2 separate regions of the Homo sapiens genome follow, and region 1 is linked to region 2. Evidence: fine-mapped expression QTL. A gene starts in region 2. The other region holds a variant in brackets. All regions are shown on one strand. Distances are from middle to middle. Region 1 overlaps EPS8 (EGFR pathway substrate 8, signaling adaptor). Region 2 holds the start of EPS8 (EGFR pathway substrate 8, signaling adaptor).

What was found. PIP is the estimated chance that this variant, and not a neighbour inherited with it, causes the effect.
Region 1: its variant is the best candidate, but not a certain one, in a credible set for the expression of EPS8 in blood mononuclear cells (TOPMed, PIP 0.85).

The regions. Positions count from the first base shown.
Region 1 is chr12:15,744,380-15,749,908 of GRCh38, reverse strand. All of the region lies in intron 1 of EPS8 (EGFR pathway substrate 8, signaling adaptor), which reads left to right. Among named protein-coding and RNA genes, the nearest start is that of EPS8, 42 kb to the left of the region's middle. The variant A/G (reference allele first, on the strand shown) is at 3,308.
Region 2 is chr12:15,787,057-15,792,056 of GRCh38, reverse strand. EPS8 (EGFR pathway substrate 8, signaling adaptor) reads left to right here and starts at 2,669. Exons shown (of 21, transcript NM_004447.6): 1 at 2,669-2,896. RefSeq lists silencers at 2,462-2,811, 3,072-3,191, 3,522-3,601.

The DNA of each region.
Region 1 (5,529 bases), 42 kb after region 2:
TCGTTTTTCTTAGATGAATTACTATAGTCTACTAGATTTTGTTTACATAAGGAACTGATTTATTTTGGGCTTACTGGTGTGTGGAAGCACAACTAATATTCCCTAACTAATGTTAGAAAACAGAAAATAAAGAAGAAAATATCTATAATCTCAACATGTAATCACTTAATTTTATATTTGATTTTAATGAACAATGCAATATGAAGATATTATGAACAATATGATATATGTTGTTTTGATTAGGTTAATTTTTCTTCCTACCACTACCACTATCATAATGGTTATTGTCATCATCAAGTATTTATTGAGTCCCTTCTCTGAGTGAGGCATAGTCGCAGCCAGAGTGAAGAAGATAAACAAAAGGCGTGTGTTTTCTTGTAAGGAGATTATTTTCTATTTTGGACTGAACATATATCTTGGAAACAAATTACAATAAATGATTTATTCATTAGGCAAATGATTATTGAGCTCTATTATGTGCAGGCCCTTTGCTTAGCATTTGAGAAATAATGTTGAACAAGACATTCCTGCTCTTGAGTATACTGTGCAGGGTAAGTGATAGACAAGCAAATAAGAATTTCAATAAATTATAATGCATGAATTGTCAATGAAATGCCACAGACAGCGAGTGCTATAAAAGGATATTATATTAAAAGATATATTGAAAAACCTATTGGACAGTGTTGGAAACCAGAATAAATTTTTTTTTAATTACTTGTTTCCTATATTGGCCCTTAGTGAGAGCCTAAGGCATAATCTTAAATAGTCAGGTAATCAATACATTTTATGACAAATTAAGGTAATATAGTTCAACAGTATTACATTTAGCTCTTCCAAAAGAACACTAGGATGGATCTTGACAAAAATAGTTAAAAGGGCCTTAAGTTCTCTCTAGCATCAGTTGTCTCAGTATTTGCTTTTGCTGGAGTTTAACATTAACATTTGACAAGTACATAAAGTGCTGATGTTCTATGGTATGAAAGGAAGAGAAGACTATACGTTTTATATTCTGGATTAGCAAGTGTCAAAGTTAGCATTCCATTATGAAAATTAGGAAACCAGATAGGCTTTTTTTGGTGAGGCGGGGCTAGGCAATGGATGTTTTCGCCCTTTCAGGAGGATATGTGAATAAAAGAGAAAAAGCTTAGATCTGTTATACATTGGATATTCTGTCTTTACCTGACATAAAACTTGTTGCAGAATAGAATTTTCTATCTAGAGTTATTCCATTTTAAACTAACTGGGCATATTTTCTTTTCTTTATATCAGATGAAAGGAATGAAAGCTACGTGTTTATACTTTATTTGAGTTGTTCAGATCCAGAGTGAAAAATACCAAGGGAGCTGTGGAATTTCTCTCCCTGGAGATCTTTAAGAAAAGGTGTAGGTATTCAGACACTTAATTCACTGAAATTGTTTCTGTAGAGTTTTGTGTGTCCTACTTTAAAAAAAAACAAGATGTGTAAAAACCCAGACTTAGAAAATTGATATTATTGAGGATAATTCTTTCCTTTCTAATCCTCATCACTTTAGTTTTCCTACTAGGTGAATTTATTTGGTAATAGATGAATACTTAAAATTGGTGAGCATTTGACTTAAGAATATTACTTCATAATATTTTAATTGATATTTGTGAAGAATTTCGAAGTTTTCAAAACATTTTACATTATTATATCATTTGCTTCTCAGTGATCTTATGCAGTAGACAAGGTTGGTATTATGATTATTTCCCATTTTGCTGTTAAGGAATCTGAGGATAAGAGGCTCTGAGATTTGACTGTGGGTTATTAAGTTGCGGGGCTTGGCACAGACCTTTTGATAGCAAATTCTCTGCCTTTTTTGCATGCATGAGGCATTACTTTTTTTTGTTTTGTTTTTGTTTTTGATTTTGAGATGGAGTCTTGCTCTGTTGCCAAGGCTGGAGTGCAGTGGTGTGATCTCGGCTCACTGCAATCTCCGCCTCCCGGGTTCAAGCGATTCTCCTGCCTCAGACTCCCGAGTAGCTGGGACTACAGGTGCCTGCCACCACGTCCGGCTAATTCTTTGTATTTTTAGTAGAGACGGGGTTTCACCGTGTTAGCCAGGATGGTCTCGATCTCCTGACCTCGTGATCCGCCCACCTCGGCCTCCCAAAGTGCTGGGATTACAGGCGTGAGCCACTGCGCCTGGCTATTTTTTTTCTTAAATTGGAGTATTTGTCCTGTTTTATATTGAAATCAAGTCACTGAAGATTCTGGAGAATAGGATAATATCTCTGGATCATTCATTTCTTCTTTCTGTAAGCTGAATGATGGCTGAGGGAAAGGAAAATATGTTTTGGGCTCCCCCCAAGTTACTTTTTTGATCATTTGCCACTTTCTTACTAATGCAGTGTTGTAGATGGTAACTGGGGGTTCTCTATCAGTTCACAAAAATAATTTAACTTATAAGATTACTGAATTGGTAGTACTGGAACTAACCAGCTGCTCCTAAAATAGTGCATTTTGGTTTGAAAAACAGATTGGGTTTCTAGGAAATGGAGTAAGTTTGTTAATGTACTAAGATTAAGCACTTTCTGATAACCATATTAGCTATATATAGTATCCACTTCAGCTTACCATTAATAAATTAGACCATGCACTTAAAAGAACCAAAATAAAATCAGTTTATTAACTATTGAGTCTTTACATTAGAGCCACAGTTTATACAGGTTAAGTTTTAAAGTTAATATCCAAATGTGTACAGCAAATAATCTCTAGCAAGAAAAATAGGATATATTATTGAGGGTTACTAGGTTGGCTTTATGCATTGAGATAATTTTACTTTGTAGTTCTGGTTTGAAAAGTTTGTTTATTTTCTCTGAACACTTCCTGCGTACAAAATATGTATTGACTGTTGAGGATTTAAAAATATCAGAAAAAGGCAAAGAAGAAAGGAGTCCCTTGTTAACCCCTCTGTTTTAGAATAGTTTTGGTAAGAAAGGAGGGTGAGTTCATTTTATAAGAAGAACTAGTTAGTAGGGCACTATGGTAACTAACATAATTCAGGAGCATGCAAACAGTAGTGGACAGTAGGAGTATATGCTTAGGGGGATGCTTGTAGATGAGTTTGATTAGCTAAATTATGGTGGGCCATGAATTCCAGGATAAGAGATTTGTTGTTTTTCAATAGAAGGGATTCCAGAGCTCTTCTAATCCAGGACTTGCTTTTCAGGTAAGGAAACCAAATTGAGTTGCTCAAATTACTGAGTAGAGGAACTGGGGCTGGAACCCAAGCTTCTTGATTAATAAGTTAATGTTTCTTCTGTTATACGATCTCATGTGTTGCCA[A/G]TGTTGGTTCTGGGAGAGAGGAAAGCAAAATAAAAGCAGTGCTTTTTGAATAAATTCTTATAGTCTTAGAAAAAGAAGATTGATTAGAAGGGGGAAGTTATTTAAAATTGGAAGACCAGTTAAGCTCATTTTGATTATCCAGACATGTGATGATGGAGTCATCAATGGCTAGAGTGATGAGGAGAAAGGAAGTGCCATTAAAATCAGTGAGAAAATTTGAAGAGTAAGCTTATGGTGGGAAAGATCAGGTTCAATTTTGAACAAATTAGAAATCAAGCAGAAATGTTTGATTAGGCAGATAGCAATATGGGGCTGATATTCTTGGTGTTAAATTATATTTAGCAGCTAAAGAGGATTGACTAGCTGGTTAGCATGCAATATAATCCTTTCACACAGTGCTACTGAGGGCAGTTGAGTTCTAGGAAGTCTCCCCCTGACTCCTGCTTCAAGGAAAAATTAGTTCTCTATTAGATGCATCACTGACTGAAACATTTGTTTAATAAACTGGTATAGGCAAACTCACCTCAAAAAGACCAATACTGGCCTGATGATATAATCGTATGATGCTTCTTTTTCTCCTATAAAGGTGTTCATAGAATGTGCAATCCCATGTAAAAGCTGTGTGTTAAAGAAAATGGTGTAACTCTTCAACCCTCATAAGGCTTTGTGAGATTTTATGGCATGATCGCATTTATTGTCATGATAGTAATTCAGTTTAATAATGTTAACTAGTTTCATTTGGACAACGTATTTGCCCTGGTCATTCATCCTTTGTTGTTTTAAACTTACATGTACTGGGAAACCACATATAATAGCTCTTGATGTTTCTACTAAAAGGCAGAGAACTTGAGCTATTATCTAGATAGTCTATGAAAATTTTAAAGATGGGGCAGTGTCTTTGTTTAATTTCTCTTTGTGTATTTCCAAGGATTTGAAAGTGAACAATGGGAGGTCTATATTTTGCTAGCAATGATTGCTACACTCACCTGACAAAATAAAAGTGATTTCTTTTTCTGTGGTTTAAAGAATTTTTTTTTTTTTTTGGATACATAGTCATAGATTTTTGGAGTCAGATGGGGACTGTAGAGACTGTCTAATTCAGGGATAATACCTGGTTTCCATTTCTATGCTGACTTTATAATTTAGTAGTGGCTGTTTACAGCAATGTTGAGAATTCCCACATCTTTGGGTTCAGCTTGGCATTAAAGAGTGTAATGATAAATTATTGATGTTTTTTATGGGAACGGGGAGGGCCCGCACAAACGTCATGTACTTGCTATCCTGATCTACTCTAGTTCTTTTGTTTTTCAGGTGAGGAAACTAAAATCTACTGAACTTAGTCTATAATAAGCAGTTAGGTTGTAAAGTGTTCTTTTATACTCATTTCTTTGAAACAGGTAGAGTTTTTCTTTACAAATAATGTTAAAAATAATGGACAATTGGCCAGGCATGGTGGCTCACGCCTATAATACCAGCACTTTGGGAGGCTGAGGTGGGTGGATCACGAGGTCAGGAGATCGAGACCATCCTGTCCAACGTGGTGAAACCCATCTCTACTAAAAATACAAAAATTAGCTGGGCGTGGTGGCACATGCCAGTAATCCCAGCTACTTGGGAGGCTGAGGCAGGAGAATCACTTGAACCTGGGAGGTGAGCCGAGATCGCGCCACTGCACTCTAGCCTGGTGACAGAGCGAGAGTCTGTCTCAAAAAAAAAATAATAGTAATAAAAAAATAGTAATAATGGACAGTTAAGTTTTTAGGCTAGTTCACAAAAGACTTTTAAAAGTATTTGTTAACGTTATCCATAACTACTTGGTTTAATTAAATTCTTGTTTGTACTATTCCCATAACCTTTGTTTCAGCATTTATCATACTGTGTTATAATTACTTAAGTTTGAAACCAGCCTTTACCACTTAGTACCTGTATGAATTTGCAAGTTACTCAAATTCTACATGTTTCAATTTTCTTATCTCTTGAAATAGGAAAGTATTACAACTTACCTTCATGGGCTTGTTGTAAGAATCAAATTATTAAATATGTAAAGCACTTAAAAAAGAGCCTGGAATCTTGAAAGAGTCATGAGAATCCTTCTCAATGGTGCTTTAGGCAGCAAATATTAGCTGGAAGTGCTCAAATATTAGGTATTGTTATTCTTACTGATCAGTTTCACTCACTATAGTTCATCCTTGTATACTTGGATCTAGAACAGTGTCTGCATT
Region 2 (5,000 bases):
AGATAATGTCAGATCCTACAGGTTGAGGGCTCAGTCCCACAAGACTACCCTGACTTCAGATGCCAAACAAAAAAGCCCCAGGTGGCTTTACTTGTGCTTCTGGCTGAACAACTAGAAATTAGGGTTCCCGTGACTCCCTCCTTGAGTTTGGTTATTTTGCTAGACCTGCTCACAGAACTCAGGGAAACATGTTTACCATTTTCTTATAAAGGATATTACAGAGGATACAGTTGAAGAGATGCATAGGGTGATTTATGCCCTCTCTGGGAGCACCGCCATCCAGGAATCTCCGTTTAGTTATTCATGTTCCCCTCTCTGGAAGTGCATGTAACCCATTCTTTTTTTTTTTTTTTTTGTGGAGGCTTTATTGCGTAGGCATGATTGATCAAGTCATGGGCCATTGGTGATCAGCTTAACCAGCCCCGGAAGTTAGAGGGTGGGGCTGAAGGTTCCAACACACTAATCATGCCTTGGTCCTTCCTATGACCAGTCCCCATCCTGAAGCTATGCTGGAGCCCCCAGCCATCAGCCAATTCATTCAAATACAAAAAGATGTTCATCACTTTGGAGATTTCAAGGATTTTAGGAGCTATATGTCTGGAAATGGGATGAAGACCAAATATATATTTTATAATATCACAGGCCTTTTTAAAGCCCGTTCTGTGTTACTGTTTCTTACTAGACGTAAATGGAGCCAAACAAGGCATACTTATTAAATTTACAAATGTTAAAAGTGATCACTAGTATTTATCTGAAATTGTGTCCTAAAACAAACACGATAAAATTTAATAAGAATAAAACAAAAATCAAGATTTAAATACATAGAAGTATAGACTATGAAAGGTGGAAGATACGGTTTAATTTAGTTGATGTGAAATAGACTTGGGTGTTCTGTTTGAATCTAGGTAGTGTGTGCTTGCATCAAAGGGGTGGCTGATCAGCAGCTGGAGAACTGGAACTCAGTTCTTGGCCCACTGTATTTGAATATTGTATTCTCAGTGCACAATTTAGAGAGGAGAATGAAAATCAAAACACATTCAAAGCAAGGTGAATAGTGTGATTATGGCAGCTCACTGCTATTTGAAAAACACTTAAAAGAGAATTTTTGAAGAAATGTATTAGATCTGTTGGTTACTTAATAGTTGCCCCTACTATTTCAAGGCTTGCAGTGTCTATAAAGAATGAGATTCATATTGTGTTGTTCCTAGGGGCAGAACCAAGACCAGTAGTATCAGGGAAGTTGATTTGATGTTCATAAATGATACAGGCTATAGTGTTAAGCAGACCTGGTTGTTAATTCTGGCGTCAGCATTGGCTTTGGCAAAAAGAAGGAAACTTCTGGGTTTCATTTTCCTAATGTGTTTAATAGGTATAATAAGGCCCATCTCATTTTAAGGACTAGGAATAATGTGTGTAAGTTGCTCAGTTCCTGGCATAGGTAAATATTCAACAAATAATCATGGTTATATGTAATGATAAAAATAGAAATTTACAACATTGGAAATGTTCAAGTGGATAGTGGTCTGGTGGAAATATTGGAGAGAGTATTCCCACTTAAAATAGGGGACTGGACTTAGCCGTTATATCGATTCCAACTTTTAGAATGGTTTGAATGTCCACCTTGGCATGTTACGTCGTTTCTCCCTGACTGTGCTTTTATTTGCTTCACAAAGCAAGCAAGTCCAATCTCTTTTAACCAAGTTTAATTTATAGGCTTTCGTGGACTTCTGGAAGTCAACTGACTTCGAAGTTAGGACAGCATGGGGGGATTGGGGGAGTAGCTATGACAATGAGGAGTTTTAAGAGTGAGAAAACACAATGTCTATGAGAACATGGACTTCTCTTTTAGAGGCTCCATGAGCTACTCAGAGAGGAGGTTATGAGGGTTGGTTAAGGTACGAGAGGCACAAAGTGAAAGAAGCCTCCACTACTTCAAACCACATCAGGGCTTTTGGCAAGAGCTACATGAAAAATAGGCTCACAGGCAGCCTGGCGAGGCGGGTCTGGGCTTGCAGGCTGGCGCTAAGGACCGGCAGTTGGGAGACTCTCAGGGACCCGATGGAGGGCCTTGGGCACCACCAGTTTACCGCATGGGTTGGAGAGACAAAAAAAGAGGAGAGCGACAAAAGGGGGAAAATAGGTCCGATGATCAGAGGAGGAAGACGAAGGCTGGCTGGTCATTAGATGCGTCTTGTTTGCCGCCAAAGGGCAGGGGTTACGAGCTGTGCAGCCAGACTGGGTGTTGCAACCCGAGCGCTCCCTCCGCCCGGGGCGTCCATCCTCGCCGGGGGCGAAGCTCTCCACACGCTCTTTGCCCCTTCCTGCGCCTCCTGGCTGCTAGTCAGTCCTGTTAGGGCACTTCTGGAAACCTGCTGTCGACTCGCTGCCTTGGTCCGACTTTGATCGCGGCCTTGATAACTTGGCGCAGCGCCCCGTCTCCTTTCCTCCGGTCCCTCTCCCGCCCACCCGGCCTCACCGGCCACTTCGCCTCAAGCGCTGGAGTCGACCAGAACTCTGCGGCTCGGCTGCCGGCAAGACCCGGATAGCGGATTTCGCTCCTGGCTGCGGGGCGCGCACTCGCCCGCCCGCCCGCTCGCTCGTTCCTCGCGCGGGCACTGGGCATGCGCGGCGCGCGGTTGGCACTGGCTGCGAGCGGGCGGGCGGCTCCAGACTTCACAGGCAGCAGCTAGCGAGGCGGTCTCGCCCGGCGCGAGGCCGGCGCTGTGCTCGCCTCGGAGATCGCTGCTCTTTAGCTGGGTGCAGAAGGCGGCTCCGCGGCTCGCGGACGACTGGCTGGGCGCGAATCAGATTGGGGGGCTTTCTCCCGGTCCCCTCCCACCTCGTCTGGGCTCGCGGCGTCTCCGGGGAAAGCCGTGGCCCCGAGGGCGGATCCGAGGTAAGAGCCCCTTGGCGAAAGGCGCCGGTCCCGGGGTCCGGCGGCTTTGACTTTCTCGATTTTAAAAATCCGCCTTTGTGTGCTGGAATCGGAGCGGTGCCAGGAGCCGCGTCCGCCTCCCTTCACTTTGACTGCTTTCAACTGGTGTTGGCAGCCAGGTGCGGTAGGGCGCTGCGGCCGGAGGCGTCCGCTCGCCGGGTCCGGGCAAGCTGTGGGGCCCGTGCAGACCCGCGCCCAGGGCTCCGGGAGGCTGGGCAGGGAGGGTTCGCCGTGGCCCAGTGATATTCATGGTAACCTGAGCTTCCGCAGATACACCTGCGCTCATCTGGTCCGTGGGGCGACTGCAGACCGAGTATCCCGATCTCGGCTTATTACGTTAGACTTGGGATTTGTGCGCTGCTCTGCCAACCCGCCTCAAATGGGGAGGGGTTCTTTTCAAAATGACCCTTTAGGGCAGGGTCCCACCCCCGTTTACCCCCTCGAATTAACATAGCTAATTGTTTCGGAATCGTTGTCAATGCCTAATGGCTGTTGACTTTCTTAGCTTGCTCCACTTTACTCACCATTTTACTTTTGGGAAGACAGACGGCCTTTCTCCGGTTGTGGTCAGTTCATGCATTTGAAAGGGGTTTCCCCACCCATGTACTCCCTGCCCTCTCCGATGTTCTCACTCTTACTTTCCTTCCTAGGACTACCTGTTTGCAAAATCTTTGCACCGACCGTTCTCCGGCAGTGTTTCTCAAATCCTCCTCCTCCCATAGGGCCCGTAGTACTGTTGGAATCTCGCGGGGGGCAGGACGCCGTGGTTAGGATTTGAAATCCGCAGACATCTAGAGCGGTGAAGGATTAGGAATTAGAATCCTCCTTTACAAAATATGTTTCAGTGAAATGTGTTACTGCTTCTCTTTTCAAGGTTTCTTGCCTTAGATAGTAAGGGGAATAGGTAAAAGAGCTAATATGTTAGGATGAGTTCAGGTAAAACTTGATTTCAGATGTGTGAAGAGTGTGACTTTTTGGCTTTGTCATTTTTGGGAAATAGGAGAGTTAGGATTCCGGGCAATCTTCTTTATATTGAAAAAGCCCCTCAAAGTAACTGTGTTGTGTATTGCCTCTAGTTTATTTTCATTGAAAGGACTCCATTCTTCCACAGCTCCTTGGGTTCTGGAAAGTGAGCACTAGTAATGGACGTCATGTGGTAGTGAGTCTATTGGAATTAAAGTCAATGTCATCCTGTCTCACCTAGTATAGATTTTTTGTTTGGGATCGCAGTTTTCTAAACATATTGCTGTAGTTCTTAAGTTGCTGGTGTGGAAAATTTTTGGTCACGAATTCACACTTTTACTTACAATTTGACAGTTAAAACAGTATAGAATTGTCACATAAAGGGTAAGGTAGAATGTATCACAAATGCAATAGTGATAATATAATGCCTTTATTGCAGAATACACAGATTGAGACTTTGTAAGATTGCACCACAAGTCATTCACTTTATAGCAGAAAAAAAAGAAGGAAAATATAATTTGCTTTTAATTCTACTATTCTGAGATAACCGCTGTTTACAAGACTTGGTGCATTCTCTTTGTAATTTTTTTCACTTCCCAATGTCATTGAATATTATATAGTAATTTCCAGTAAGTGTAATTTAACTTATACTGTTAGTAGCCCCACTCTTAATAGGGTGATGTTTCTTTTGTTTCCTGTCAGGAACCTAATGTCTAATTTTGAATATTTTGCTTGTTTGTGATCAAACTTAAAGATTTATTTTGTTTTTATTTCTAGCTTTTTCCTGCTTTCAAGGTTTTATCAATACTGATTCTTTTCAGATACCAGTTCTTTTCTATGCTATGGCATAGGCTTGCTACTCTCTACTTTGTGTTTATTACATTCCAAATCCTAGTTATTTTCTTACACTCTGTTTCACACCCTTTACCCTACTGCTTTTTATTCTTCTCTCTACTCCCTTCTTTTACATACCTCTTTTAATTCTGCAGCAGGTCACTTGAACCAAGGTTTGTATAAGAAAACATAGTATCCAGAATAGGAAATGATAGGTTTTTAAAAGTTGTCTCTTTAAATACTTGAAGTTCTATTGGATGAATATTTT